Linked DNA regions of Homo sapiens. The protein of the gene in region 2 interacts with the protein of the main gene of each other region in a pairwise test. Each region holds a gene or a part of one and is shown on either strand. Other genes may lie near its edges. The genes, in order: CENPF, TOP3B, AXIN2 and FBLN5.

The links.
Region 1: the proteins of TOP3B (region 2) and CENPF interact in a two-hybrid assay, tested with the Homo sapiens proteins (one study listed by BioGRID).
Region 3: the proteins of TOP3B (region 2) and AXIN2 interact in binary tests that used the Homo sapiens proteins (3 or more experiments, as listed by UniProt).
Region 4: the proteins of TOP3B (region 2) and FBLN5 interact in a two-hybrid assay, tested with the Homo sapiens proteins (one study listed by BioGRID).

What each region holds. Positions count from the first base shown.
Region 1 is NC_000001.11:214,633,377-214,641,486, reverse strand, and holds part of CENPF (centromere protein F), read right to left. Parts: intron 3,622-8,110; coding exon 3,486-3,621; intron 1,567-3,485; coding exon 1-1,566. UniProt on the Homo sapiens protein: Required for kinetochore function and chromosome segregation in mitosis. Required for kinetochore localization of dynein, LIS1, NDE1 and NDEL1.
Region 2 is NC_000022.11:21,972,644-21,980,753, forward strand, and holds part of TOP3B (DNA topoisomerase 3-beta-1), read right to left. Parts: intron 3,545-8,110; exon of another isoform or gene 3,338-3,544; intron 3,165-3,337; 5' UTR 3,067-3,164; coding exon 2,997-3,066; intron 1,846-2,996; coding exon 1,714-1,845; intron 76-1,713; coding exon 1-75. UniProt on the Homo sapiens protein: Releases the supercoiling and torsional tension of DNA introduced during the DNA replication and transcription by transiently cleaving and rejoining one strand of the DNA duplex.
Region 3 is NC_000017.11:65,529,717-65,537,826, forward strand, and holds part of AXIN2 (axin-2), read right to left. Parts: coding exon 7,608-8,110; intron 7,348-7,607; coding exon 7,153-7,347; intron 6,838-7,152; coding exon 6,604-6,837; intron 6,006-6,603; coding exon 5,910-6,005; intron 4,364-5,909; coding exon 4,196-4,363; intron 387-4,195; coding exon 260-386; 3' UTR 1-259. UniProt on the Homo sapiens protein: Inhibitor of the Wnt signaling pathway. Down-regulates beta-catenin. Probably facilitate the phosphorylation of beta-catenin and APC by GSK3B.
Region 4 is NC_000014.9:91,868,911-91,875,804, forward strand, and holds the end of FBLN5 (fibulin-5 isoform 1 precursor), read right to left. Parts: intron 4,766-6,894; coding exon of another isoform or gene 4,587-4,765; intron 1,476-4,586; coding exon 1,314-1,475; 3' UTR 501-1,313; downstream 1-500. UniProt on the Homo sapiens protein: Essential for elastic fiber formation, is involved in the assembly of continuous elastin (ELN) polymer and promotes the interaction of microfibrils and ELN. Stabilizes and organizes elastic fibers in the skin, lung and vasculature.

The DNA.
Region 1 (8,110 bases), on a different chromosome or scaffold from region 2:
TCTTTTCCTGTGCTGCTTTGTATTTTTGACTAAGATCCTCATATGCATTTCCGGTTTCTTCACATCTTTGTAGTAAAATAAGTTTTTCTTGCTTGTACTGATCAGATAACTCTGAAATGCTTTTCTCCCTTTCATCTATATAGTTTGCAAAACTCTCACTTTTCTGGATTAAGTTCATCTTCTCTTGATTTAAGGATGCATTAATTTCCTTAAGAGTCCCATTCTCTTGGGTCAGCTCTTCAATTTCCCTTTTATTTAGAGAAATGATGGAACTCATTTCTTTCTTCTCCAAGCTTAGGGTTTCGGATAAAAGTTGTAGCTCCTTTAGAGAGTCTTCAAGTAGATGGTTGCTCTTTTTTAATTCTTGAATCTCTGCCTGCTCAGTTTCTACCTTATCATTTAAAAGTTGCAGCTCTTTTTCCTTGTTCTCAAGGGCACTTAAGGTTTCAGCAACAACATTCTGGTGAGCAGAAGTGTCTTCCTGTAACTTACTAATGCGCTGACTTGTTTCAGCCACAAAACTTTGATGCATCTGTTCTGCTTTCATGAGATTTTCTTCTATTTCTCCTTTGATTTGCACCAACTCTTCACACTGCTTTTGCAGGTCTGAGTTCATCTGTTTTTGAGACTCTAATGAAAATTCAAGTGAATCAACTCTATTTTGTAGGATGGCAGAATTTTTCGGACTTTGGTCTGCTTCTAAACGACATTCACTCCTCTCTGAAGGCATGCTTCCTTGTTCTCCAATTATATTTGCAAAGGAATGATGCATGGCAGGCTGCTGATCAAAAGCCAAAAGACTTCTCTGATGATCTTCATTTGTCACCAGAGAAGCATCTTTGGATTTTAGCAGATCCCTGAGGCTCTCATATTCGGCATGCAAGTCTTGGTAACACCGGTCTTTGTCCATTATTTCATTTGACAGTAACTGAAGCTTGTGTTCTAGATCTTCAACTTGCCCAGTAAGCTGAGAAGTCTTCAAACACATATTTTCTATTTCCTTCTGATGTTTCTGATCTGAGAACTCAGCTTTCTGCTGTAGCTCCATATAAGCTAGTTTCTGGGTCTCTACCTCCACTGACTTACTGTCTAACACGTTGTGAAGGTTTCTGATCTCGACACTTAGGTTTTCTCTGTCCATCTCCAGCGTTCTTACTCTCTCGTTGTATTCATGACTTTTTATTTGCTGTGTCTTCAGACAAGTTTCCAAGTGATTAATTTTACTCTGCAAGTTTTCCTTTTCTGATTCCATCTGAGTTAAAAGTTTTTCGTTTTCACTTTTCCAACAAGAAAACAGAGTTTTCTCTTCTTTCAATTCTTCATATTCTTTCTTTTTTAACTCTAAAGCACTCAGCAAGGCTTTGGACTCTTTCTCTGTCTTGCTTAACTTATCATTAAGTTGTTCAATGTGATGTTCTCTTTTCTTCAAAAGGTCTTGAGAACAATCTCGCTGCTTTTCCAGATCAGCCACAGCAAGCTTCAGTTTTTCTAAAGTCAAGGAGTTTTCTTGCTGATTTATTTTTTCTTGAAGATCTCTTAACATGGTTTCCTGAGAGGTATTCTTCGCTATTTAAAAATAAATAAAAGTCGTCAATGTTTGTAATAAATGTTTATTCTACAGAAACGCTAACCCCTCCCCCCGCCCCCTGGCAAAATCCAAACAAACTAACAACTACTCAAGCCCTGGAAAAACTGGCATTATTGCCTGGGTACCTCCTAGAAAGTGGATCACTTGGTAATTATCTTATATAAAAATGAGAAAAATGGTTATCTTAAGGAGAGTAACACATTTGTTCATCTTCTTTCTAGCAGCTTAAGAACATGTTATTGAATAAAATACCAAGGGATGATTTTCCTAAGCACTGTTTCTTTTCTTTGTATGTGTTTACATATGTGTATATTTTTACCATCTTTTCAAATATTTATTCCAAGAGAGAAAACTGGGACAAGAACAGCACTGAAATGGGAACATCCCACTTTATTGTAGAGTAATTCTGATGTCTCAGAAAAGTAAATAAGTACTCCACCATTTTAGCTAAAACATCCACAGGATTAGACTTAAGTAGAAAAGAGTAAATGATGCCATATATCAGTAATTCTCAAGGCCTATATGTGAATATTCCTGAGGAACATTATCACCCCCATCCCAGCCCCTCATAGTAAGGGTGGCAGTGTCTATGAATGTCACAGTCATTTGGAAGCTTCTTCAAACTCCGTTACCCCCTGTCTTCTGCCTAATGACTCATCTATACATACTGGCCCCTCCTGGTTGGGAATAACCACGATGTTTTCATTAAACAGTGATAAGAAGGCTTCATGTTGCTCAAGTATGTTGGGGGAGATTGAAAGTTGAGAACCTCCACAGTAGATGATAAAGGTAACATGTATTACAATCTCAGACATCATATCAAGTGGAAAGCAGTACGAACTTCTAAGCTGTCAATCTCAATCTACCTACTTATAGTTAAGGGCTTATGTAGACAGCACCACAAGGGCTTCATCCCACTTTGCTGTGAGCAACTCAAACAATCACCTGGGTGATCAACACTGAAAAATGCCCCAACTGTTCCTTTTCTTACAGTTTCCCTTCAAGAAAGCTGAAAACTGACATTTCTATCTGCTGCTGTGGAAAAACTAAAAGCTGTCTTGGGAAGATTGGGTTTTTGTTTTGTTTTATTTTTTTGAGATGGAGTCTCGCTCTGTCGCCCTGGCTGGAGTGCAGTGGCGCAATCTCCGCCTCCTGGGTTCATGCCATTCTCCTGCCTCAGCCTCCAGAGTAGCTGGGACTACAGGCACCCGCCACCACACCAAGATTGGGGTTTTAAAAAAATAGTCACAGAGAAGTGTGACACACATTCCACAGGACAGAGTTCAAAGAAATTCTAGATATGCAAACACCCCAGGTGAGAAAATAAAGGGTATGTAGAAGACATCCGGCACAAACATACAAATATGAAACCAAGAGTGGATTCATTTGATGTGTAGAGCAGAATTCTTTGGCTTTAAAATAAGAAAATAAAATCATTCAGTCAAGTAAGTCATCAAAAAACAATGGTCATTAGGAGCTTGGAAAACATGCATTTAATATAGGGTTTTTCCATTATAAGGGAAATGGTAATGAGTCAGGAGATGAGCTGTCTGGATGTAACTAACAAGCACACTAGAGACACAGAGAATAGCACTCGGGGGTGAGAGACAGCACTGACAATTTAGCTTTGTGTGGAAAATATTTACCCTTCTGATTTCAAAGTGCTGAGCATCAGGCGTTTGGGACTCAATATGTTCCAATTAAAAAAAGTCCCACTCTCACTCTGGAAACTAAAAACTAGAAGAGGGAAAACTCTTCCACATCAACTGCGCACATCTTTTTGAGGGAATATATGAAAAAAAATCCAAAGAGTTTCTCTAATATGTTAATGCCATCCATCCCCTCTCACGGGAATAGCAGCTTAGAAAGGTAACTCTAAAATACTAAGTTTACTTACCTTTCATTTCTTCTGCAAAATTCTGGCTCTGATTTAAACACTGTTTGATGTTCTTGAGTTCTGCCTCCAGGTGGCAGACTTCTCTGGCCTTTTGCTCAGAGTGACTCTTAAGGAGGTTGTTTTCCTTCTTCATTTCCTAAAACACACATTTTAATTGGTTATAGCCAAAACGAATGCTCAAGTAAGTTATGACTTCTGCCTTAATAAAGGTCCCTAGCAGAACTGTTTGTGTATCTCACTAGGGAAAGAATCACAATTTCCCCGTTTGAGTACCTAATGAAGTCAGACATTCTTACTTAAATAATGTTATGAACAGAAGACAACAGCATCAAACCCAAATCTGAAGATAATTTTTTCTTTCAAGAAGTTTCATTGAACTTTCTCATTGTTCATACGCCTATTAAAGAGTAAGCTCAAAAGGAAAATCCTATCTACAAGATCCTCAAGACAAAACCTCCAAGTTCCTATCACACCTGAATGGCCAAATATACCTTTGCAAACATTTGATTTGTTAATAAACCAAAAAAAAAAAAAAATCTCAGCACATATGTTTACTTTTCATTGCAAAACCATCTTAAGGTTTGCTGTTACAGGAATGATTCTGTGGGAAAAATTACCTTCAATAAATGCTTATCAAGAAAACCAACAATATTCAAGATGCTGGAATGTGCATTACAAAAAATGCAAATATAAATAAGACAGAGTCTCTGCCCTTGGGGCAGACATCCTCCAGTGGGGGAAGATGTGATACTAATCATTTAATACACAATAGGATATGCTAAATACTAAAGAGACATTGAGTGTGCTATGGGAAATCAGAGGGCTGGAACACAGAGGAAGAATTAATTCTAGCTTCTGAGCTTTCACAGTGAAAACAGGTTCTTTGGGCATCTGATTGAAGAGACATCCACGCAACAGCATGCAATAAAGTAACACAGGTACATGTGTAGTTCCATTCTACTACTAGGGAGGCCTATATGTTCTGAATCTTAAAAGCAAGCAATATTTACATGCCAAAGAAAAACTTTTTTGCTTATTAACCACATAAGACTCACATAACAAACAAGTATCTCAACCTATACTGTATGCCACCCTTTGGACCACAGGGAATTGGCATAAATCATTACAAGCTAAGAGAACCAAGCACCTCACATCCTCAAGCGGGGAAAAATCATATAAAGCTAACTTTTTTCTAAACTGCATTTCAAACCTACCAAAATTACCCCTTTGTGAAGTAGAGGAAAAATTCTGAATCTTAAAGAAACAATTAAGACCCATCCTCCAAAACCCTACTGCACTGTTAGAAAACAGATGGCCGTGGCAATACTGTGTTGGAAGGCTGCCTTCAATTATCAGTCTGGTTACTACCAGCAGATGGGTACCGATGTAGCAAAGCCAAATTCAAGAAGAGGGAGAATCTGGCTAGTAGAAAGTACTTGAAAACTTGCTGGCAGCTGCTCCGTTCATGTATATGCGTTCATTTCATCATTAAAATAAGACAGAACCTGTTGTAGTTATTATACTCCCATCTACCGTGTCCTGATCCTGCTTCCCTGCTGCTAAACTGACACTCTATCGAATTAAGATATCAATCAGAACTAAAGGGCAGCTCCAACCGATCTCAAGATTGATAGGCTAACATTCACACTAGTCAGTGTTAAACTTTGCAAAGCACGATCATTAAGGTGCAACAATGTTATTGATTTAAATTAGCATCATTAAATTATGGAACGTATAATGACTGGTTTGTTCTTCAGACTCAGAATAATCACCCCTCAAATGAGATCACAGATGTGAAAGGACAAACATCTTAAAGCACTTTGACAGGGGCAATGTAGCATTATTAGTAGTATTTCCTCCCAAAATTTAACAGTAGCCAGATCTCTGTAATCAATGCTAAGATCAGCTGAATGAGGTCAACATAGAAGAGGAACTAGAATGTAATTACCTGGGTCGACTTAGCATTTTTATTTTGCAAATGAAAAAATATTTTCTTACTCTAAAAAAAAAATTTTTTAATCAAATCAAATGACACCTGCATCTGGAGGCTTGACAAGAAAGCTGGAAAGACACTGTGCAAAACTAGGTGCGTCCCAATAGGAAGGAAGGAAAAAAGAAGAGAGAGAGGGCACCAGGGAAAGATGGGGAATTTTATGTTTATGTGTTTGTTGGTCTCGATCCATGTCTGTCCATAACTGGAGACATTTAAATGAATAGTAAGCTCAATGGAAAGATTAACATGACTTTCTCTATTCTGGCATTAGCTCCGTAAATATTTGTGTCTAACGAAGAAATGTTCAGCCAATCCTGGGACCCAGCAGGCTTATAATGCTATGGCTATGACCAACCCAAGAATTTTAAAAGGCCAGAATTTAGAAAATGAACATCTGAAAATGGATGTGCAAGCTGCCATCCATCAGCAATTAGTTTTCCACGAGGCTACAGCCACTTAAGACTTGATTGGGTATCTCATTATCAACAATGAGTTAAGCATACAAAGATACATTTTCCTAGGCATCTCCTGCATCCTCACATGATTTGCAAAATTGGGTACTATGCTGGAAAAGCACAACAAAAATCCCTATAACCACAAGCCAGCATTAGAGCTTAGCAAGCAATTCCACCCAGATCAACTTCGCTTTAGGAGCAGCAAGGGAGGCATCATTTCCTAGGGCCAGACAAAACAAATTTCAGCTACTGTGTGGCATTTCATGATCCCATCCATGAATATAGCTTAATACGTCCCCTGCTGGGCGAAGCCTATATACTTGGATAAGGGATGGATGCAAAGAATGTGTTTTTCCCTTTCCTCCTCATCTCTCTTGCTTGCCAGAGCCAGCTCCTTAGAGGACCTAGTGTAATACAGATCCCTATGCTTGGAAAGGTCCCCAGGCAAGTGTTCCCTCATCTTGACTGTCAAACGATGGTATTTTATTGCCTAACCCCAATGCTATGGGGCTGGCACTGGATAGTGGACGAGCAGCTTATCTAAACCCTCCATTCACTTTGATACTAAATGTTAACTTTACCCTTGATTGGGCCATTAAATCACATTTCCAGTACTGATAATTTCTCATTGTGAGCAGCATGTTTACTAAACACAGACAAGGAAAATTTCAGTACAACTGTCACATTATTTCGGCATCCAAAACCTATAAGCGTCCTAAATTTGTTAGTGCTTACATATAATTAGACACAGAAAGATACCCAGAGTGACACAGTAATAGAACAGGCAAAATTATAAATATGAGAAATCTCAAGTGCACTGTCCCCTGATCACACTTTCTGTGCCTGTAGGTGACAGCAAACAATGCTAACATCAAAAGGTCATGGCAGTGATGAAGACCAAGGCAATGGGCAGGTGTTGGACTGCAATAACTGACTGAGCACTTATGTGCTGGGCACTGGGCTAAGCACTTTACATACAATATTTAACTTAACCAAGAATACAGCCTTGAAAAGGCAGGAGAATGATTTGTCCCTATATGCAGATGAGGAAAGTCAGACTGAGAAAGGGTAAGCCACTGTCTAAAGGTCACATTGTGGTAGGTGGCAGAAAAGCAACACAATCTCAGATCTCACTCACTCTAAAGCCACTACCATTTTCCCACTAAGTTACACCACCACTCTAACTGGGTTCATCAGTTATCTGGTCCCAATCCCAATGCAAAACACAAGAGCCAGCCAAACTCTTTGAAATCTTGCTATCACCCTCAAAAGATGACACATACATAAACATAACCATAAATTAAGACAAATATTAACTTCATCCCCAGGCCCGGTGCTAGACACTTTCACACAGATGCCCTCATTTGACACAGACATCAATGATATACCAGTGAAATGTGATGCATGCACCTCAGTACAGGCTGGGATTAACTGAGGACAGCGCTACAGCTCACGGACCAGACCTCGTGGGGATGAACAAGTCTTCAGAAACACCTGCAAGACAATGTCCAGCCCACTACTGCGACTTGGCCAAGCAAGCAGTTTTTAAAGTGTTTGGACTCTCTTAACCAGATGATTGCTTTTACAAAATGTTTCCACCAGGCAGCCAGTGGAGTCGCGGGAGAGTTCCTGGCTGAAAGGGAAGCTCACAGAGGGAAGAGTTCGATGCCAGTCTGCCTGTGGAAATGTTAGCAGAAGCATCTGTTGGTTGGTCCCCACTGGCCAAAAGGCAAACATTTGTTTTGCTGAAACAAACACTTCCATTTGAAAACGTTTGCTGATGAAACTATCATCTGATTTGAAGTTTTCTTCCACTTTGTGGCTGGAGCTGCAGCCCCCTATCTCCAGCAGTATTGCCCCTTTGGGGTTAGCTGATTTAACAATCACCTGTCTGCTACTGACAGATGTTCTGATTTTACCATCATGATACACTCTGCAAAGCGGTGGGGATAAATACATTTAGACTTTCCTCACCTGAACAAATAACTGTTCTTTATGGACAAAGTTTTCTTAATCTTTACAGCCTAAAAAGTGATCATAGAACATTTAAAGAATAAACAGAAAAACATTCTTTCCTGTGGGGTTTGATGGAGAAGAAATTTCTACCATTCTTGTGTTGTTCCTCTTCTTAAAATTACAATGTTGATTTATGGCTCTCTTCAAATTGTTTCAGTCTA
Region 2 (8,110 bases):
TAGCTTCTTTCTTCTCCGTGGGAGCTTGGCTGAACAGTTCTGCGGGGTCCACTTTGTCCCATTTGTTGTATTTTCCTACAAACCAGTCACAGTGACATTGAGTCACAGGAGCTCAGCCTCCGAGACCATCATAACCCCAGGAGGATGTTGGCCTCATCCCACAAATGAGGAGGGGAAAGCTTGGAGAACAATTTGCCCAGGGTCATCCTGATGATCAGAGGCAGAGCCAGGATGTGGGTTCAGGCCTTTGGTAACCCCCTCCCATCCAGCCTCCTTTCTGCTCGGCTGCTGAGCGGACCCACCACACCCCGGCCAACCACAGGAGCCAAGCAAGCTCTCGGGGGGCTGCCACTCTGGCCTCACTTCCGGGACTTTCCCTGTGGCTGGGAGCACCATTCCTGGGCTGGGTCTCTTTGCCTGAGCACTGGACCCCACAATGGTGCCTTCATTGACACTTCCAACCTGAGTTTCTGGAACTTTGTCCTTCCACCCAGCACTCTGTGGGGGCACACATGTGTGCAGTCGTTCCTGTTAAAGGACCATCTTTTTGAGCCTCATGCCCAGCACATTCACCTACTCATCTACAGAGACCCGGTTCTTGCATGCTCAGCTGTCTGGCTTTCTTTTAGGCCCCATTTCTTTTTTTTTCTGAGACAGGGGTCTCGCTCTATCACCCAGGATGAAGTACAGTGATACGATCACGGCTAACTGCAGTCTCGACCTCCCAGCCTCAGTCCATCTTCCCACCTCAGCCTCCCAAGACTACAGGTGCGCACCACCATGCCAGCTGATTTAAAAAGAATTTTGTTTTTTTTTTTTTTTGTAGAGACAGGGGTCTCACTATGTTGTCCAGACTAGTCTTGAACTCCTGGGCTCAAGCGATCCTCCCCAGGCCCCATTTCTTGCATCCTGGGAGAATGGGGTCAGACAGAGCCAAATTCAAATCCCGGCTCCCCACCTGCCAGTTGGAGATAAAACTTGGGGTCCAAATGCTCAGCCACACAACTCAGTCACCATCATTGTCATCACTGTCATCAATGAGCAGCAAGAACAAGGGCTGAGGCTTTGCTGTGTGTCGGGCCCTGTGCTGAGTGCTTTGCCCTCACTGTCACACTGAATCCTTAGCCTTGGGAAGCAGATGGCATTGCTGTGAGACCCATTTCACTATGAGAAGTGTAAACTCAGAGGCCGTCATTGCCCACATCCCCAGCCAGTGAGCCGGCAGAGCAGGGGGAAAAGCCTGGATCAGACTCTTGCCAACCACATGGCCCCAAACCTACACCCAGCAGGTCACTAATACTGGCGCTTCCAAGGTAATTGATAACAGTAACAATATAGGAATGACAACGACAGCCACCAAATGACCGACAGATGACGGTCAACTTGGCAACAGCAGCAGCCTTCTCTTAAATGCCTGCACAGGTCAAGCCCTTCCTAAGATAGGTGCTGCCACTTTGTCTACATAGGAAGGCACACAGGGAATGCAGCGACTAAGGGGTGCCGCTATGATGGGGACCCAGGGCTGAGTTCCAGAGCCTGGGTTCTGGGCACCGCACCAGGGACCCTCTCATTGCTACTTCATGATCTGCTGGCCTTATGACTCATGGAGTTGGGACAAACTTCCCTGCCTAGAGGCATCTCCTGGCTTCAACTGGACCCTGGCCAGTGCCATGCAGAACTCCCTTCAGTAGGATGGAGGGTAGAGGGGCTTACCCAGGAAATCCAGGGTCATCACGTGACCACAGACAGACGTCATCTTGAAGCGCACTGGCTGGCCAGCAAAGGTCCCAGTGTACTCGTGGACTGAGCAGGCCCCGTTCAGCCCTTTGTGTGAGGACAGGCTCCCTGGGGATGAGGAAGCACAAAGTGACTGGCTGCTTCAGCTGAGCTGAAGACCCTGTGGAGACCCCAGCCCGGATGCCACCTCCCAGAGGGCCAGAGTCCTCCTTCCCCAGAGTGGTGAGTGACGACATTCCGCAGACTGGTGCGGGTAGTTGGGCACTGAGAGGTGGGACGGCGCTCAGGGAAAACAGCATCTGCCAACAACCTAGCACAGAGCACTCTCGATGCAGAGCCCCAGGCTGCCGGGAGCCAGGAGCAGGCAGGGGTGGGCTCTTTCTCTGTATTTATGTTTTCACTCTTCAATTCCATTTTTGCCTCACTTCATTGAAACGTTATTCATCGTTTACTAAAACAGACTCCAGATCTACTCTCGGTTACCAGGGACCTTCTAATTATCGAATTCTCACCCTCTCCACTGACCATACTCAGCTGTACTTTCTCAGCTTCTGGGCACCGGGCACCACTTTTGGGGCACCGTCCCCTGCGGACCATGCCTTCTCAGCTGAACGAGGGTCTCTTCCCCTCTCAACTGCTGGACCAAGGGGAGGCCAGGTAGGTGCCTGTCATTTCTGGGTACCCAGCATCTAAAACTCTTCCTATTTGGAGGGAATTCAAAGATAGGGGGAAACAGCACCCTACCAACCACCCCAGTGGCCAGAGTTGGGGGTGAGTGGCAGACATTCCCTCTCGAGCTCCCTGGTGTCTCAGTAGTGCCTGTGGCCATAGCTCAGTCCATTGGCTACTCTGGAGTGACGTGAGGTCCACAGGACAGTGGGAGTATCCAGGGGTGACAATGCCTGGGGCATAGCCTCATCAGACCTTGACTGGGGTGTAGTCCTGGCTGCGTCTCCTTCCTTCCAGGGCTGGTTTCTACTACCTGTACCTAATAGCCCCACCAGGCCCAGCATATGGATAATGACTGTCCTTCAATTTCATTGTAAATTGTGCCTTGTGCCTTATGGGAACCCCAGCTTTGGCACATTGCCAGGAGTGGAAGCAAATGCACCCCACTGTGACATACTGAGATGCTTCATTACCACCTGCCGACCCGAACCAAATCTACCCCAGCCAGGGTGGAATCACATTAGGAAAAAATGTCCTGTAACACATAAACGACCGTGCTTACAGACCAAAGCAGGGCTGGTCTCTCCTACCTCTAGAGAGGATTTTGGCAATTGACTGTGCCAAGGACGGCTTTTCAGCAACCATGAGCACAGTCTTCATTTTGTCTCGGTCCTTCACACTCCAGTTTCGGGGCACTGGCAATGAAAAAGTTTAGACTCCACTCTTCCGCAGCACAGCACTATTACCAATGCTGACTCCTAAAGAGAAGAAAAGACACTCAGGATAGCAATGCTGTCAATAGAACCTACACCACTACAAGGAAAATCACTTTAACAAAGAAAAAACAAGACCAACCTGAGGCAAGAAGAAGAAAAATTAGGGAATTAGGGAAACTTGAAGACATCTGAGATTAAAAACAAGAAAAAACTACCAGGTCAGCTGAAGTGGCTGAGATGATCCTGGGAATGTGGCTCCATTTGGGGGAAGGTGAAGTGGCCCCAGTGATCTCAGGTCAATTTTATTCCTAAATCCATGCTAGGAAGATGCTGGGGCCTGGGGATCTGGAGTGATGGGTCAGGCCAGGTGGATGCCTGGCCCTCCTCTCTGGACTGGCTCTTCCACCTACAGGTGGACTCACCTGGAAAGAGGAACTATCGTGGCCGAGAGCAGCACCTCCCGCTCAGCAAAGCACTTGGACGCCCCAGGACACTTTACAAAATGCAGATGCCCAGGCTGGGCCCCCCAGGTCCTTCTGATCCATGATGGGCCTGAGACCCTCTGGCTAGTCGGTCCAGCCCCAAGCAGACATCAGGACTCTGTCACATCTATCTCCCACCTATTCCACTCCACCTTTTGCTTTGCAGGTCATGCTCTGGCCAAATTAAATCAAATATCATCATCGAAGCAAACACGCACTTGAAGCCTCTGTGCCTGCGCTTCCCTGCCTGAGAGAAAGCTCCGCCAGGCCTGGAGGATGCAGCTGGATGGCCCACAGGCCCAGCTCAAGTCTCCCAACACCACTGGCAGGGTAAGTCAGCCCTCCTGTGCCCACAGCTCTTGGGCTAGGTCTCCATTCCAACCCACTCACATCATGCCATCATCAGCGACTACTTCACCCCCAAAATAGGACACGATGGGCTTTGTGTCTGAATCACTGTTGGTCTTTGCAACAGCTTTCTGTGCCTGACACATGACATTCAATACCTGCTAGCCAAGTAAAAGAAAACCACATGAACCCTTTTTGTTTTTTCAGTCATTATAAATGTAGCACTGATGTTTATAAACATAGCACCGTATTAAAAAAGAAAAAAAAGACTCGTATTGAGACAACTGGGAAATCTGCTGTGAAAAAAAATAAAGTTAGACTCCTGCTTCCTAAATCCCACTAAAACCGATTCCAGATCTAGCAAAGGTTTGAGTAGAAACAATGAAACCAGAAAATATTAGGAAAAACATGTGCTTTTAAAATAAATCTCACAAGCCAGGTGTGGTAGCACATGCCTATAGTGTCAGCCACTCAGGAGGCTGAGGCAAGAGGATCGCTTGCTTGAGGCCAGGAATTCAAGGCTGTTGTGTGCCATGACTGCACCTGTGGATAGAACAGCCACTTCACTCCAGCCTAGGTGACAGCAAGACCCTGTCTCAAAAAAAGTAAAAGCAAAATAAAATAATCTCAGCATAAAGAAAAACTACCACCTAGATGGGCACAGTGGCTCACGCCTGTATCCCAGCACTTTGGGAGGCTGAGGTGGGTGGACCACTTGAGGTCAGGAGTTCAAGACCAGCCTGGCCAACATGGCAAAACCCCATCTCTAATAAAAATACAAAAATTAGCTGGGTGTGGTGGTGGGTGCCTATAATCCCAGCTGCTTGGGAGGCTGAGGCATGAGAATCGCTCGAACTCAGGAAGTGGAGGTTGCAGTGAGCCGAGATCATGCTATTGCACTCCAGCTTGTACAACAGAGTGAGACTCCATCTCAAACAAAAAAAAAAAAAAAAAAAAAAGGGAAAACCACCACGTAAGTACCTTTGTGGTATCACATCATGTCCAACAACACTCGCAGAAGAAACTCAGAACTACAATGAGCTTGTGCTTATCACATAGGGAGAGACTCAAAGTCGTTGCACACACAGCAGATGAGGGCATGGGGAAGTTAAATGGGAACAACCTCTATGTGCAGCAATTCAGGGATCCCTCTCAAAGTCCGAGTGCACATCCCAGCAATTCCACTCCTTGGAATGAACTTAATAGTCCAGTTATTTATTGAGTACCTACTGCATGCTTGGCCTAGTCCAGGATGCAGGGAATACAGCACAAAGCAACACCAGGTCCTGCCCTCCCAGAACTCATGCTGTAGTATGGGAGCAGGGGAGGGACAGGGCAGGGCTGGGTGACACCTGGGAGAAGAGTCCAGGCAGAAGGAGCAGGGAAGGTGAGGTCCTTGGGGAGGATATGGCTGGGCAGGGGGGCTCATGGGGCTGAGGGAGGGAGCAGGGGTGTAGAATGTGGGTCTGCTCTAGGGGTGCTGGGAGGCAGCAGAGGGTTTGCATAGGTGTGGGATAATCTGACTTCAAGTGTTAAAGGGACCTCTCTGGCTGCCACATAGAAGAGGATGAATGGGCCCTGGGTAGCAGTGGTGGAGGATGCGAGGGAAGTCAGAATCCAGGCAGACCTGGGATGGCGGGACATGGGAGGGGGAGGGGAAGGTGAGTCAAGAATGACCTGAGGCAGAGCTGGGCATGGGCTCACACCTGCCATGGGCTCACACCTATAATCCTAGTGCTTTGGGAGGCGAAGGCAAGAGGACCACTTGAGGCCAGGAGTTTGAGAAGAGCCTGATTAACACAATGAGACCTCATCTTTACAAAAAAGCAAAAGGAACAACCCATGGCTTTGGCTTAGGCATGACAGGAAGGGACTGGCAGTCTGATGTGGGACTTCAGGTGTGTTAAACGGGACCTGCCCATTGGACAGCCTGGGTGGCCTGGAGGAGGTGGCAGCAATGTGGAAGGAGCCCAGGCTGGGGGTCGGGAGATGAGGAGCTAGCAGGGTGAGTCAGGAGGGGTAAGGTCCTGAAAGCCACAGGAAAGAGCACTTCAGGGCAGTTATCACCATGTGGGGGACACTGACAGGCCAGGCGAGATGGCAGCTGAGACCTGACTGTAGGGTCTGGCAAACAGAGCCCTGGGTAATCCTGATGGGGCCATGTGGTGAGTGACAGATGAAAGCTGCATGGGGTGAGCTCAACAAAACCTGGGAGATGGGAGAAGGCTGGTGCACTGTCCCCTCTTGTTTCAGGATGGTGGCTGTGCCAGCATGTTCTCCGCTGATGGGACTGCTCTGGCGAGAAGGAAAAGAGAAGCTGCGTGCCGGAGGGGAAGGAACTGCTGCAGTGATGGCCTTGGGAGGGTGAGGGGCAAGAGAGGCAGCCGGTCAGCATCCAGGCGATGCAGAGCTGCCACAAGGCTGCACTTCTCTTGGTGGAGGAGGAGGCATGGTACGGCTGTCCACTGAGGGAGGACAGGTGGTGATGCTGCGGGCAGGCCCACAGCAGAGGAAGCACTGGATTTAGTTAGATGGGAGAGTCCAGGTGAGTAGGAGGGAGAGGGAGTGGGTCAGGGTTCGAGGGGAGAGATTACAAGGACAGAACCTGACTCTGAGTTGGGTGAAGAGGGAGGTGAGGGTTGGGGAGGGTCCACAGAGGGTGTGCTCTGTGGGGTCCAGGAAGTGAGGCACAAGAGCAGGAAGTGGGAGTCAAAGAAGCAACTCCCAGAGGGTGGGAGGCTCAAACAGGAATTACAGAGGGGCCTGGGTGGTGGCATGCTGACCCAGGGAGGGCAAGGGCTGTGAGACAGGTAGAGAGTGAAGTCACCTGGGGAGACTCACAGGAGTCAGTGGTGGGCCCTGACAAGACTGTCCATGTGGACTCTGAGTCCCCAGGAGGTAGGACAGGGCAGCGCTGGAGTGGCCTCAGGCTGGGCACGGTGGTGCCTGTGATGAACCACATCACTGGGGAGTTCTCTGCAGCATTATCAATCATGATAAAAGGTTAGAAACAAGCTGGTGTCTGTCAACAGGGAGGTGGTTAAATAAAAGCATGGCATTCTCTGGCCGGGCGCGGTGGCTCACGCCTGTAATCCCAGCACTTTGGGAGGCCAAGGTGGGCAGATCACGAGGTCAGGAGATCAAGACCATCCTGACTAACGTGGTGAAACCCCGTCTCTACTAAAAATACTAAAAATTAGCTGGGCATGGTGGCAGGCGCCTGTAGTCCCAGCTACTCGGGAGGCTGAGGCAGGAGAATGGTGTGAACCCGGGAAGCGGAGCTTGCAGTGAGCCGAGATTGCGCCACTGCACTCCAGCCTGGGCGACAGAGTGAGACTCCATCTCCAAAAAAAAAAAAAAAAAAAAAAAGCATGGCATTCTCTACAGTAGAGCACCTGGCAGCATTACAAAGGAAAGCATCTGCTTGGTACATACTAACGTGGATCAGATCACTGAAATAAATCATGCTAAGAAAGCTGGGCATGTAACGGTGTGTAGAGAGCACTGCCATCTGTGATCACACATATGTGTGCACACGTGTGCACTTGATTATGAAGAGGCGATATGTCTGGATGGAACGCAAAACAAACAGTCCAAGCAATCACCTGGAGTGGGTGTTAGGGCCTGGAGGTCAGGGCTGGGGGTGCCTCCTCACCACATTCCCTTTTGCACCTTTTACATTTAGCGCCTGGACACAGGTGACTGAGGGACAAGAACTAAGACAAGGGACTTTACAATAAAACCAGAAAAATAAAGGAGGGTTGTAAAGGGCATTGTTCAGAAAGGATGCCAAAGGAACTCCCTCACTAAAGGGGCTTCTGCTGCTCATCATGCTGTGCAGGGGAAGAGGTCCAAGGTCGGCCTTGGGCTGTCAACCTTGTTCCCCACTTAAGAGATCACAGGACTACAGTGAAATCAGTAATCTTGACCAGAAAGCTGTCCCAAATAAAATGACAATTTGCTTTTTTCCTCAAAATAAGTAAGTGGATGTTCCCCTTAAATGTACAACCATCCCACAGTGAAAGAGCCGAGGCCTTGTGGAATGACGACACTGTCTGCAGATGAGCTCTCTGGCCCATGACAGCTCCAGCTGCATCTCCCAAGGCTCTGCTGCGCACCCACCTTTCCTCCCTGTGCGCCAGCAGGCTTCGGCCTAGG
Region 3 (8,110 bases), on a different chromosome or scaffold from region 2:
GCATCTTCAATAGCCAAGAGTGGTCATGTTTTTAATAAATAGTTCAGGCTTTTCTTATCTCAGTCAGTACCCAGCTCATGAATCATGAAAATCAACCTCCCCCCGCCCTCCCGAAGGCCCACTGGCCGATTCTTCCTTAGACTTTGTCTTCTTCATTGGTTTAATTTTCCTTCAAAATGTTTTGTCGCAGTTGCTCACAGCCAAGACAGTTCACAAGAGCTTCGGGCTCCAACAGTTCACCAAAGCCAGACCCCAGGGCTCAATCGATCCGCTCCACTTTGCCCAGAATCCGGCCTTCATACATCGGGAGCACCGTCTCATCCTCCCAGATCTCCTCAAACACCGCTCCACAGGCAAACTCATCGCTTGCTTTTTTGAAGTAATACCTTAAAAGGAAAACCAAAAAAGCTTCTTGGTAAACTGCATTTTCCACATTGTTGAAAAGAAAAGCATACCAACATGGAGGACTGAGGTATCCTAGGAATTTGCTATGGCAGGTGTGCCTGTACACTGTTGCGCACATCTGCTTTAAGACGGCAGCTGGGACTGGCCACACCACAAGAAGCAGGTGGGCCGAGATGATGAAGGCCAGGCACCCACTGAGCAGCAGCCTGGGCTGGGCCTGCCACCTGCAATCTTCAACCCAGCACCTCTGCTGTCTCCTGACACGTATACACTGTGAAAAGCAGAGCTGCTTTCCCCCCGCCAACCTTTTTCAGCAGTGGGGTGGGGGAGGGAAGGGAAGGACAAATGCCTGCAGTTCCTTTGCAGCAGGAGCCAAGCAGGTCCTTCAAAGAGACTCCAGACTATCTCCAGGTTCAGCCATCCTGAACCCATCACACCTGGAGAGCCGGAACCTGCCGAAGTCTGTAAAAGGCTGACTTCCAGATGGTTTAGCAGTCCAAAGGCCTCTCGGCCTTCCCATCCTCCAGGTCCCAAGTGCAACACTCCTGGATGGCCCTGGCACAGCCACACAGGAGGCAAGCCAGCCCAGCGCAGCTTCCCAGGGCCGAACAGACGGCACTGGCCCCATGATGCCCTCCCCTCTTCTCCCCATTTCCAGGCCTCTTCTCCCATCCCATCCCTCCAGGGTCAAACACCAAAGGCCCTTCTATTATGCCCGTTGATTAAAGGCTCCTTTCATCCCTCCCCAGCGTTCTTTCTTCTGAGGCTGTTTAATTGTACAGATGCAAATGCCTGGCCTCTCAGGAGTGCCACATTCGGAAACAACTGCTGTCCTCTTGGGCCAGGCCCACCCCTAAACCCCTTCCGAGGAAATTAAGCAAGGGCCTCTTCCTTCCCTGTCCCCAGCCAAGGGAGACCCCTCAGAGGGATTAAACTTGCCCCTGCAAGCTGTCATTTCCAGCCCATAAAGGCCACTCACAGAGGGAAGGTCACAGTCCCCTGGGGGGATGGGAGAACCTTTCAAGCATTTAATTGTGTCTCAGGGTTATGGTTGGGCTTTGTCTTTTCCCTTTAAAAAAAAAAAAATTAACTCCCCTTGGTTAGAGCTCAATTTTTTCCCTCTTTAATAAAGGCAAGCCAAATACTTTCGTAGGAGATAAGGCTAAATACAGTGAACAGCTGGGTTTAGTCAAGGTTCTTTGTTTTTAGCATTCCTGACCCAGCTAATGCAGTGGGGTGAACAACGGCATGGCTCTGACTAGGCAGCACTGAAGACACGTCATGTCAAGGGGTCAAAATTCTCGGGGGAGCGTGAGAGGAGACAGTGAGAAAATGGGGAGGGGCTCTGTGCACAGGAGACTCAGGACAGTGGGGGGAAAAGTCACTTCTCCACATAAGAGGCTCAAATCCCAACGCCACCCTCCGTCAGACCCCTTTGGCCCCAGCTCCGACCCCTCCAGGGTTTACCAAGTTGGGCTTTCACAGCATGTCTGAGCAAACACGCAGCGACCTTTTACATAATTGCAACCTCCTCCAGAGAGGAGAGAGGCCACATTCTCTCAGCCCCACCCCCAGGACTTCAAACACACTGCACTGCCCTCATTTTCTCCAAGAAACAGGCTTTTCCACTGCAACATGCTTCATGTGGCAAACTTTGCTTTCTTCTGACATCTGGCACCAACAGCGTCTGGCGCGTCTGAAGGGACTGTTTGCTTTTTGAACCCCTGCCATGTTGAGATTACTCAACGCATCCCAGGTCCCCCCCACCTCCCACCCCTGCTCCACGGCCCCAACCTCACTGGGTCTTTTTTATTTTTTTGAAGGGGGGATGTATTTGTACAAATTGAGATGTTGAAGCACCAGCCCTGCTGGGAGGGTGAGGCGTGACACCCTGTGTCCCTGTCCTACCCCAGGAGGACACTGAGTCTAGCTCAGGCCCTGCAGAGATAAGGCAGCTGGGAGGGCCTTCCCACAGCCTGATCCACTCAGGAAAGAACTGGAGAGGATCGGAGAGTTGACCATTTGTGCAAGTCTTTGTGCATTAAAGGGGAGGCCAGGGCTTCAAAGCCAGGCTTATTAACTGTGCCTCAGGGAGAAAAAAAAAAAATCAGAGCCAGATGTGGCCACAGCAGCTGAAGGAGGCACTTTCCCCACAAGCCTATGCCAGCGCCACATGGCTCTTCTCCAAGGTCACCTGCAGTTCCACTCGAAGTCCAGCCGAGACAAAGCCAAGATCAAAATGAATCCCCAGAGGGACACACTTGTGTCATTAGTTTCACCTTGTGTCTTTTCAAGATAAAAGCAGCAGCAGCAGCAGCCAGGCCTGTTCCCCCACCCCTTTGATACCTTTTCACAATTGTCTCTGCCCAGGTATAAAAGGGACTATCCAGACCCAGCAACACGCCCTGCTGGCCAGTTACCTCCAGGGGCTCAGTCCAACCTCCATCCCCTCCCCACTCCAAAGAGAATCACTTTGAGCCCCCGCCCAAACTAACTCCCAGATGAAGGTGGCTGGTAAAACTATACAAGGCCTGCTCTAGAGGGGAGGGTGTCTCAGAGCCCTGCAGGTGGACTCATCCCCGTCCAGGAGCCCATGCCCACCTGGCAGGTTACCAAGTGCTATTCAGAGTTTTCCACTCACACCCCTGGCCCTGGTGGCGGCAACGGGTTCACACCTGGGAATAGACTGTGGTCCTGGCACAGGGACAACAGCACACAGCTGAGGAGTTGGAACTCTGTCTTGGGTGTAGACCCCAGAGTGAGCACCTCCTTAAACTAGGGTGCCCCTGTCTCACCCTTGTCCCAGCCTGGAGCCCTAAACCTGGGAAACCTGGGACAGAACTGGAGCAGAATCCACACATTCTCTTGGGCTGCAGGCCATGGAGAGGGGCAAGGGAGGACTCCAGATGAACTGAGGCAGAGTCATCACCTGCTCCTTACGAGGGAAATGATCAAGAGAAGGAATGGCCTAGGGCTGGCCCTCATCCTCCTCAGCTCTTGAACCCTCTCAAGGGCCCTAAAAAGTCAGCATGGACCTTCTCAAGGGCACCTCCGTCCACTCTGCAGACAAGGTAAGGAGACCAGGAAGTTCCCTTCCTGAAGCCCCTGCAGGGGAGAAGGCAGCGGGGCCCAGGCCTGGACAGGAGGAGTAGACTGCCCTATTCACCCTGTGCCCACCCGCAGGTCCAGCCCCTTCTTTGTTATGGACAAAGGCGCATCTCTGCTTCTAATGGCCCATAAAATCCAGGGAGGCTGTTCAGGTGGAAAGGCAGGGTAAGAAAAACACGGGGGACTTTTCCTAGGCATGGTTCCTGACTATTTGGAGCCTTCAATGTGGGGGTCTCTCCTAAACTCAAGCCAGTAGGGCGGCGCTTCCAGACCCTCCCTCCTAATCAGTGTGCCTGTCCCTCTTTTTGCTCCCTGCTCCCCACTCGCCCACAAGCCCCTCAATTGCAGGTAAAGCCTCTGCAGTGTGGCCTGAGCCCCACTCTCCTGTCGGTGCAAGCAGCTGCTCCTTTTCTCTCCTCAGTCTGGTTCACCTGGTGGAAAGAGCCTGGCCAGGTCCCCCAGAGAACCCTCCACGCAGCCTCCCTCTTGCGGCTGCTGCTTCGTTATTGCTGCTAGCGGTGAGGGGAGAGAAGAAATGAGAAGGGAGCCTCCCCCAGCGCCTGCTGAGCCCCCTCCCACCCTGCCCCACCTAGGTCTGCTCAGCCAGGGGAGCTGCTCCAGGCTCTGGCTCTTGGTTCTGAGCAAACAAACTGAGAGCAGAAAAAAGCCACAGGACTCTTACCTATAATTTCCCTTTTTGCTGAGCTGCTCTTTAAAGTGGCCCAGGGTCAAGCTCTGAGCCTTCAGCATCCTCCGGTATGGAATTTCTTCCCCACAGAAAAAGTAAGTGACAACCAACTCACTGGCCTGGAGCGCGTGGACACCTGCCAGTTTCTTTGGCTCTTTGTGACTGAAAATAAGATGGAATGGAACAAGTTTAGCATTTTAAAGCAGACACACATCTAAAGCAAACACACACGTGCGCACATGTGCATAAGTGACAGGGTATCCAAACACTAGGGCTGCAATTGTAAACCCAAAGTGGGGGCTGGGGCAGAGCCCCACATCCCAGAGTCAGGCAGCTCTGGGGGACACACAGTCCAACCCCACATGTGCTGCATGCAGCATGCAGAAAAGGATGATTTCCTTTTGGTTGTACAAATTGGTATCATTTCCCCCACCGCCACCAAATGAAAGTATACGGCGGCCTCTTTCAGGCTGGCATAAATGGGGTGCTTCCTCAAGAAGATGAGAGAAGAGAAATTATCACAGAGATGCCGGGTCTCACCTGGATTGGAGAGTGCTAAAGAGACAAACCCAGAGCAGGACACCTTTGGGATGGCATGATCTCAGAATGCCTAAAGCCCACCCCTTATTCCAGCAGAATGAGAACAACTAATGGGGGTTATCACACAGTCATGTCCATTTCCCCATTTCTTCTGAGATTTTGTAGAATGGCTTGAAAAAAAGGCTGCTAGGCCGGGCGTGGTGGCTCACGCCTGTAATCCCAGCACTTTGGGAGGCCGAGGTGGGCGGATCACTTGAGGTCAGGAGTTTGAGACCAGCTTGGCCAACATGGCGAAACCCTGTCTCTACTAACAATACAAAAAAGGAGCTGGGTGTGGTGGTGGGCGCCTGCAATCCCAGCTACTCGGGAGGCTGAGGCAGGAGAACTGCCTGAACCCAGGAGGCGGAGGCTGCAGTGGGCCAAGATTAAGCCACTGCACTCCAGCCTGGGCAACAGGGCGAGACTCTGTCTCAAAAAGAAAAAAAAAAGTGGCTGGCCCAGACCCAGAGAGCTGGTACACTTAGGGTCAACCAATTGAAACAATGAAAGGGTCCAGGGCAGTGGCCTATTGAGGACTTCAAACATTGCTCATTGCTCAGGATGAAGACACTAAGAAAGAAAACTTGATACAGACCATTTTAGATCTCTTTAGCAGATTTCTTTTTAATTGCACCATCCAGTAATTAAACGAGCAGGCTCCTCAACCTACTTTGAAAGAGACTAAATTTACAAAAAGAATCACTGCCCAATTTGGGGGAAGATATTCTGTCTTCTCCAAACAAAAACACAAGGATGGTCCCCTCCACCTCTGCCACAGTGGAGAATGATCTTTCTGCTCAGGGGTGACAAATGTTTCCAGTACTACTAAATTGCAAGTTGAATGGGGGCAACTTTTCCAGCTGAATTTGAGGTCCCTTCTACACTTCTGCTAATGGCTTCATGTCCCAGCTTTTGATTTGTGTATGACCAGAAAAACTTTTGCTATGATGCATTTGTCGGCAGGACATGGATGGCAACATCTACGTTTACTGTTCCTCATCACTAGCGCTAAAATCAAAGTGATTTTAAAAACCAAAAAAAGTTTCATGAAAATGAAACTCCAGATAGCGAATATTCTGAAACATAAAGCACTCGGCAGATCTCAGTAATGTCAGGTAAAGACACTCACTCTTCTGGAGCCAGGCTTGGATTGGAGAAGGGTGTGGCTCCCGTCTGAACAGTGGCCGAATGATTCCTGTCCCTCTGCTGACTGGCCACACAGCACCTGAGGACACAGCCAGGGCGAGGGATTTAGAGGTACACTGTTGTCCCCAGAGCAATTGAAAAGCAGACAGAAAATTACTATTTGGCCTCCTGAAGAGACACGAACCCGACTTCCATCCTTACGGAGACCCAACCAAGACCCTGGGTTAACAGTGGCTGAAGAGGCCAGGAAGACGTCTTGGAACAGCCATTCTAAGCCCCCCTGGGAGCCCAGGATGGGACATTCTCAGCCCCAGCAAAGGGCTGAGGACTCTTGATCCTCCATCTCACAGCTTCTTATATACTCAACTAACCAGCCTTAAACAATCAAGACATTTGTAAGGAATGGGATTTGTAAGCAATTGCTGAAATTCATTCTCCCAATTCTAGGCATGACTTGCCTCACAGATCCTGGCTTAACTCTAGTAGAATGAACATAACTGAAGGGAACAATTTCTAGAAGCTGGAAAGCAGCAGCTTACTCATCCATAAGTAATTCTTCTTCTCATGGGAGGGTTTGAGACCCAGGCAGAAAGAGAGGCCCTCCCCATTAGCCACAGACCAGGTCTCCACCCAAACCCAATCCCTGCCTCAACCTAGGACCCTTCACTTCCACTCACCGCTGCTTTGGGGGCTTCGACACCTCAGCTAGCCTGCGACAGGCCTCCTCCAGCTGAGCCAGCGTGTTGGGTGGGGTCAGGGGAGGCATCGCAGGGTCCTGGGTGAACAGGTGGGCACGGGGGGTGGTGCGGGGGTGCCCGCTGTTGCCCCCCCACAGATGGTGCCGGCTGGCTCGTTCGCCTGGAGACGAGCGGGCAGACTCCAAGGGGTAGGCCTTTTTTGTGCTTTGGGCACTAAACAAGGAATGAGCAGAGAGAAAACAGAAGGAAAGAAACTGGGTTAGAAGAACTGGAAAATGTGACTTCAATAGAAACTTGTCTATTCTGCTCAGAGAGAGAGTTAAAAAAAAAACTACCATAACATGAACAGGGGTCAGTGCCAAAACATGACATTTTTGTGGTCTGCTCAGTCCAACGTTTAATATTAAGATGGCAGGAGCAAATAGTCACATTTGTATTCCGCGGACTGCAAAAACAGCCATTCCCACAATACCTCCGTACTGAGTGCCCATGACCCTCGCGGCCGCGGCGGCGGCAAGCGGTGTTTACCTATGGGGCTTGGGCTTGCTCTGCCGCTCACTCTCCAGCATCCACTGCCAGACATCCTGCGACCTGTCTCCTTCCTCCCGGGGAAGCTGCAGGGCCCCAGCTCCGCCGGGGGCCCCTCCTTCCCTGGCGGGCAGGGCCAGGCCCGGCTCCGTGCCTTTCCCATTGCGTTTGGGCAAGGTACTGCCTCTGCTGCCGCTGTGGGGAACCAAGAACCACACCCAACCCAGAGACCCGGTTAAATCTCCGGGACTCCTAGAATCAGACAATTCAGCAAGTCGGGGGGCTGGTGACACGAAAGACCCATGCACCTGCTCCCCGCACCCTCACCCGGCCGTGCACTCTGCCGCCCTCTTAGAAACTAAATGCCTGTAATGCGGCTCCCACCTCACACCTGCCCATGGACCTGGCTGGGAGACAAGCCCCACACGGGACACTGCGGTCCGCCCGGCACTTACCCAAACTGCTCGCTGGGCATGGTTTCCGGAGCCTTGGAGTGGCTTTTGCATTTCGAGTAGCAGTAATACTCGCTGCCCCCAGGGCAGAAGCAGTGCACCCGCTGCGTGGCCTCCGCCTCGATCTCCTCCTTGGTCTTGGGGACGGCATGGTGGTGGATGTAGTGGTGGTGGACATGCTTCGTCGTCTGCTTGGTCACAAAGCCTTTGCCCCCGAGGAGGGGGCAGGCGCCCGGCGAGGCGGCCGCGGGAGGCAGCTTGCCACCGGGCGGGAGCAGGGAGTGGTACTGCGAATGGTGGTGGTGGTGGTGGTCCGGGGAGCGGGAGCGGGGGCTATAGCGGCCTACGCCTGGAGACTGGCAGCCAGGGGTCTTGAGGACCCTGGACAGGTGATCGTCCAGTATCGTCTGCGGGTCTTCCTCGTAGCTGCCGGAGGGCAGTAGGGAGAGGGGGTGCTGCGTGGGCGCCCCCTCCCGCGAATTGAGTGTGAGCTCGGAGCCCTCTCT
Region 4 (6,894 bases), on a different chromosome or scaffold from region 2:
CCACCTCTCTTTCTAGGGTTTATAACAATACATTCTCAACTCTGGCTACATAGTCAAGTTTTCAAAAATCCTGATGGCCGGGCCCTACCTAAGCCCAATGACATCAGAGTGTCTGGGGGCATGTCCCGGGGAATCAATCTTTCCTCCAAAGTTCTACTGGTTATCCGTCTATGCAGCCAGGGTTGAAGGCCACTGGTTTAAAGTAACTTGAATACATTCCTGTTCTGCAGGAGCACCGGAAATAATCTACGTAAGAGAAGGATTGTTGGTTGTTTTCTAATCAGATGAAACAGGACTCAGGGATGATGCCTCCCCCTAACTTCCCCACGACCCCTATTTCTCTGCCCCACCGCCCCCCTCCCATCAATTTGCCAGAGTCACAGATAATGCCCTAGCTCTCTGGAGAGCTTTCTAAGCCAGCGCACAATAAACAGGTTTAAACAGAACTAGAACCCCAAAGGCTGACTCGTCTATGATGTCAAAATGAACCAAACACAAGCTCTCTTCAAATATTTAATCAGTTTGGAGACCTCTGCATTCCAATCCAATTGGGTAAAAATTCTAAAGAAAGCAAGATTAAGGGGTCCTCAAAGAAAACACTGGGCTAAAATGGAGAGGAGACTGGGTTTGGGAAGACAGAACATAGCATGTGTCTGAAGGCCTTTCGAAGGAATTCTACGACATATTTTTTAAAAATACTCAAAATGAACAAGACAGAATTAAACCGTTATACAAATTTAAGGACAACTGAAACTTCTTTTATGGTTGAAAATACCAGGCATGGTTTTGAAACACATTCTCTAAAAACCCTTCGATCCTGCTGTGGTTTGTTTACATAGCCTTCTCTGTGTACGCAAAAAGCAAACTAGCTACTCCCAGGGTTCCCCGCCAGCTCCCGGGTCTTTGCAAAGCAGTAACACAGTGAGAGAAGGAGTGGAAGAGGTGAAGAAGTGACAGCAAGCTGTTCACAGTCTTTGAACATAGACTCAGACCCCCGCAAACCTAATCTATTTTCTTTGAAAATAGTGGAAATAAACTGAAGGCCTTGAAAATTCACCAACAATCTTCTATCAGGGGAGCAATGATAATACTTTTTGATAACTGTGTCATAGGAACTGGGGGTGGCAAGTCCTGCAGGGTGACAGGTCTGCAATAGTACAGGTGAGAGTCAGGAAGTCGGGGCTGACTCTTCGGGGAAACGTTCAGCAGGAAATGCCTAACGTCTGTGTCGCTCTCATTCTCTCTGTTATTTCCTCTCTTCTCCTGTCCCTTGGTGCCAATGAGAGGCAGCGTCGGAGGCTCCAGCCCGAGGCTCAGAATGGGTACTGCGACACATATATCCGCAGTCGGATCACGGAGCTGCCTCTGAAGTTGATGACAGTGTTGACAGTGATCATTTCCAAGTCCAGCTGGATTTCCCGGGGCCCTTTGATGGGGCGTGTCATCACCAGGGTGGCACTGATGGGGCCCGTTTGCTATGGACAGAACCGGGGAACACCAGTGAGAAAAGGCCTGCATGGTGGCCCTGCAGCCCCACCTGGGCGCTCCCTTGCCTCCGTCAGTCAAACTGGCACCCCCTCGGTGCCTCAACTGTGCCATGCTCTTTCCCTGGCTTTGCCCACTCTCCACCTGGTTCTTTTCTGCAAACCCTTCAGGTCTCATCTGAAAGGTCACTTCCTAAGAGGAGCCTTCTCTGGTTCCCCAATCTAAGTCAGGTCCCCCTGCGACCTCTGACGCTGCAGCCTTTACTTTGTACAGGATGGAAAGCATTTATGACCATGTATGATTGTCCATACTGTCTACCTGATCCGTGTCTGATATCTAGGCTCCCACTAGGCTATGAGTTCTGTAAGAACAGGTACTGGGGTCAGGCTTTTCACCACTGAGTCCCCCTAGAAGCCAGCATGGTGCCTTGAACACAGAAGGTGTTCAGAAAACATATATTGAATGATGAACGAATCATTGATTGAAACTTCTGCATGGCTTAGGGCTGTCACTTCACCCCTCTGGGGCTCATCTCTCAAATGAGGGTTTGGCATTGAGTACATACACATGGACACAAAGAAGGGAAAAACAGGCACCAGGGCCTGCTTCAGGGTGGGAGGCAGGAGGAGGGAGGGGATTGAAAAACTACCTACTGGGTACTATGCTTATTACCTGGGTGATGACATCATATATACACCAAACTCCTACGACACAGTAATTTATCTATACAACCAACATGCACATGTACTCTTGAAAGTGGAATAAAAGTTTTAAAAAACGTTTTTGAGGAAAAATAAAATGAGGGTTTGGACCAGATCAGTAATTTAAAAAAAAAAAAAAAAAGGCATCAAAGGCTACTGGAACTTTTTTTGTTAAACTAACAATTCCAGGGGCCCATTCCAAGATTTTCTATGTCAGTATATTTTTAGGTGATGCCTGGGAAAGGTGGAATTTAAGAACCCCCCTCTAGGCACCCTAGAGTCATCTCCAGCTTCACCATTCTGTAACCTGATCACTGTGGTCCTAATAATTTCGCGTGAACTCTCTCCTCCACTGAGTCTTTTTCTAAAACTTTCAAGGAGGAAGGCAGAGAGGAATGACATCAACTGAGCACCCATCATGTGTGAGGCACTCTTCTAACCATGTTTATGTACATCTGCTTATTTAATCCTCATAAAATGGCCAGGCACCATGGCTCACAACTGTAATCCCAGCATTTGGGAGGCCGAGGTGGGCGGATCACTTGAGGCCAGGAGTTGGAGACCAGCCTGGCTGATATGGTGAAACCCCATCTCTACTAAAACTAGAAAAATTAGCAGGGCATGTTGGCAGGTGCCTGTAATCCCAGCTACTTGGGAGGCTGAGGCACAAGAATTGCTTGAACCTGGGGGGCAGAGGTTGCAGTGAATAGAGATCGCACCACTATACTCCACCCTGGACAACGGCGAGACTCCAGCTAAAAAAAAAAAAAAAAATTCTCATAAAACCCTGAAAGGCCTTGCCACTCAAAGTGTGGTCCCTGGACCAGCAGCATGGGCATCACCAGGGAGCTTCTTATAAATGCAGAATCTCAGGGCTAGGATCTACTGAGCCAGAATCTGTGGCTTAACACAATCCCCAGGGCTTTGTGTGCACATTAAGTATTGAGAAATATTGATCTAAAAGCACAGGACCCAGGTGGGGGGGCCCTGGCTGTCCTTGTCTAAGTGCTGTATGAAAGGTATGACTCATTACTTCCCCGTTTTATAAGTAAGCAAACTGAGGTCCCATGAGGTTAAATAATTGCTTAGGGTTACCCAGCTAGTCTTGGGCAGAACCAAGGGCTTCCATTCAGGTATTTCTGACCCCAAGCCCCAGGCTTTTTTCACTGCACAGCAGGTATCAGAAGAGGCTGATGTGTGTTTCACTTCTTCCTAGCACCCACCTAATGAGAGATGCTCGCGGTCAGTGCAAGGGACAGATATTGGCACTGTTAGAGGAAACAGTGTGAAGAAGAAAAGGGATGGGCTGGACAATCACTTCCCATACACTGCAGAGCCCAGCCCTGTGCCCAGAAGCTGCAAGCAACAGTCTCTGCAAAATAAAGGAACCTAGCTGGTTTAAAGCTACACTAGATGTTTTATCTGTCTCCATAAAAGGAGGGCGCCCCATAAAGTTCTGAACATCCCCAAGAGCCACCACAAGTAAGACAAGGGTGGGGCTGGCAGACAGGTGCAGGCCAGGCGCTGGGACCTCCCCTATCCATGAGGCTATCGGCAGCCTGACAGCCACACAATTTCCTCTTGGCACTGGTTCCTCCTGTTCCCGTCAGCATCCACGTTATTGGCACCTCCTCACGCAGATTTCTTGGACTTCCTTGTCAGCCCTTACGAAACCTGAGCCCTGGGCCAGGGCTTCAGAGGGTAAAGCCACACAAGGAAATGCCTGCAGCCTTTACATATACAAATATCTCACCAGCTTTCACTGCGTGAACAAAGACCAAGAGTTGAGAACCCTGAGCTAGGGACAGCCCTCCAGAGGGAGATCTGCAGAGCCCAAGGTCTGGAAGGGAGAAGGGGGCAAGTGCAAACTTCCAAGTTGTTCCTTTGGGCTCTCCTGGTAAATGTCTCCTGAGTACGAAAGAATCCTCAACTATCCCATTTGAAATCCTAGACTCTCCCATTTGGAAGTAACTGCAGAAGCTGGTGAGTCCGGCCTCCACCTGGGTCCACCCTACCCACAAGCACCTGGAAGAGCTCAAGTACCTGCCACAAGAGCTGAGGACAGCCACCTCCACATTCGGCTTTTAGGGCAGAGCCAGGGCATTAATGAAATAAACCCCTGAGAGCCCGTGGGCATTAGTAGGCTTGGTGGTGCGAAAAGATGAGGAGGAGGAGGATGGTGGCGACAGTGATGACGGTGGTGGTTATGATGCCAGGCATCTGGCTACAACCTTTCCTACACCTCTTAATTAATCTTCACAACCCTATGCTCTAAGTAGGTTAGGGATACTACATAAGGCCACCAAACTACTGCATGGTACTAGACTTTATGGCTCCAAAAATCATGCTTCTAACCACTACACTCTCTGATAAGGTCTCTGTACCTCTCCATTTACTCACCATCCCATGGGTCTTGACTTGACTTGAGAATCGCCACTTTGTGTTGTGTTTGCTAGGTTGTTTTCCCCCTCTCCGCTAAGGTGTGTGTGGGTTCCTCCAGGGCAGAGACCACATCCTGTTTGTTTCTCAACGCTCAGTGCCTGACTTGAAGCCTCATATGCAGTGGTGCTGAATGCACGCTGGTAACGGAAGAATGCACACGAATGACTGAACGCCAGTGGACTTGACCACGCTGGGAGTCGGCTGCCAACAGCCCACCAGCTGTGTGTCTTCTTGGCCCTGATCCCAAACACACTCAGGTTTATTCTAATCAACTTGTGGGATGGCATGGTCTGACCTGTGGCAAGCAGCCACGCTGTAGCAGGCCAGCTTCCATGGGCCCTGTCACTTGATCCACGTGTGTCATGGAGTAAGTGCACTTTGGCACAGTCTGAACCCCATGACCTTGCTCCTTCTTCTGGCCCTAATTATGACCCCCAAGCCACCTGGCCAAAGCCAATCATCAGTCCTCTTTCTAGGGCTCAGTGAGAGACAGGCAGCCAATAAGGCTTATGAATGGGCTTGTGTGTGTGTGTACACGTACGCATGTGGGCATAAGTGTGTGCATGTGTGCATGCAAGTGTGTGTGTGTGGTTTGCCTGCGGGGTGAGATGAAGCTCCTCCCATGTGGTTATAATCAAATCAATGAATCTCAGGGTGTGAGAGCCTGGATGGCCATCCAGCCCCACCTCCCACACGATGCTCCAGTCCCCTGGGTAGCATTCCCAAGCTCTCCATGGCCCAGCAGCTCCCAGCCTCCTTGCAGCAGTAGCAGCAACAGTAGCAGTGGCCACAACAGTATCTATACAATCATAACTGCTATTTCTGGAATACTTTCTATTGTAACTGGATGTTAGACTTTTCTTGTGATCTCCATTTCATCTGAGACCCCAAAGCTGGAAGAGTAGGTAAAGCATACCTCCCCATTCTGAAGAAAAGTATAACAGCACAGATTTTTGGTGCCAGGCTGCTTAGGTTCAAATCCTGCCCTGGTGCTTATTAGTTGTGAGACTAGTCGGGCAGGTTGCTTAGCTCTGTGCCTCAGTGCTCTCATCTGTAAAATCTGGACGATAAAACCATCCTATATCATAGGATTCTTGTGAAGATTAAAGGGTTACTGTATAGAAAGCACTTAGAATAGTGTCTGGCACATACAGGCACTATACACGGCTTGCTGCTGATGCTGTGTGTGGAGTTATTGGGGTTATACAGGACTTACAAAGCTGTGATCCAAAGCCAGATGTTTCCCTCATTCCATCACCCCCTCCAGCCTACATACATACTTTTTTGTTTGTTTGTTTTTGTTTTTAGAGACAGGGTCTCGCTCTGCCACCCAGGCTGGAGTGCAGTGGTGCAATCATAGCTCACTGCAGCCTTGAACTCCTGGATTCAAGTTATCTTCTCATCTCAGCCTCCAGAGTGGCTGTGGTTACAGGTCATGCCACCACACCTGGCTAATTTTTTAATCTTTTTTTGTAGAGACAGGGTCTCACTATGTTGCCCAGGCTGGACTTGAACTCCCGGGCTCCAGGGATCCTCCCACTTCAGCCTCCAGAGTAGCTGGGATTACAGGCATGAGCCCCTGTGCCCAACTCTACATATATTTTATTAAACACACTTACTAGCCTCCATCTCAATCAAGAGGGGTTTTCAAAAAAAGAAAAACTGTTTAGAGATGCAGGCCCCTGAAGTTCAAGGATGCAGAAAGTGGTACCAGACTGTCTCCAGGAGAAGTCTGGAGATGTGAGCCCTGAGCTGCCCCACACCATAGAGAGGAACGGGGAATGCAAGGAGCTGATGTTGACATCCTGAAAGGCCCTTGTGTAAGGTCTGCTGCCAGGATGCAGTGATACCCTCCACCTCACTACCACCACGGCACATCTGTATGAGACATAGCCCCAGAATTAGGGGCTGAGAGGTTTGGAGTAGCAGGTGACCAACCACAGGCCCTACTGCCCATATCAGGGACTGGTCAGTGTGAAGTCCTCAGGCAAATCTCCAAAAGACCCACAAAAGCACCCTGTGAGAGCAACAGCTTTGGGGGCTCTGCTCCTGAGGGAATACCAATGCCTGGTTACAATGGCTACAATCGGGGAGGAGCCTCACTCTTCCAGCCTTACCCTTTCTACCACCTGCTCCTCCCCTGCCAGCCCTGGAGGAGCCAGGGCCAGCACTACCATTACCGGGAGGGTGACAAGAGGACAGGGCAGAGGCCAACCACACCCCTTGCCTGCTCTGAACTAGGAGACAGGGAGAAACTTCACAGTGG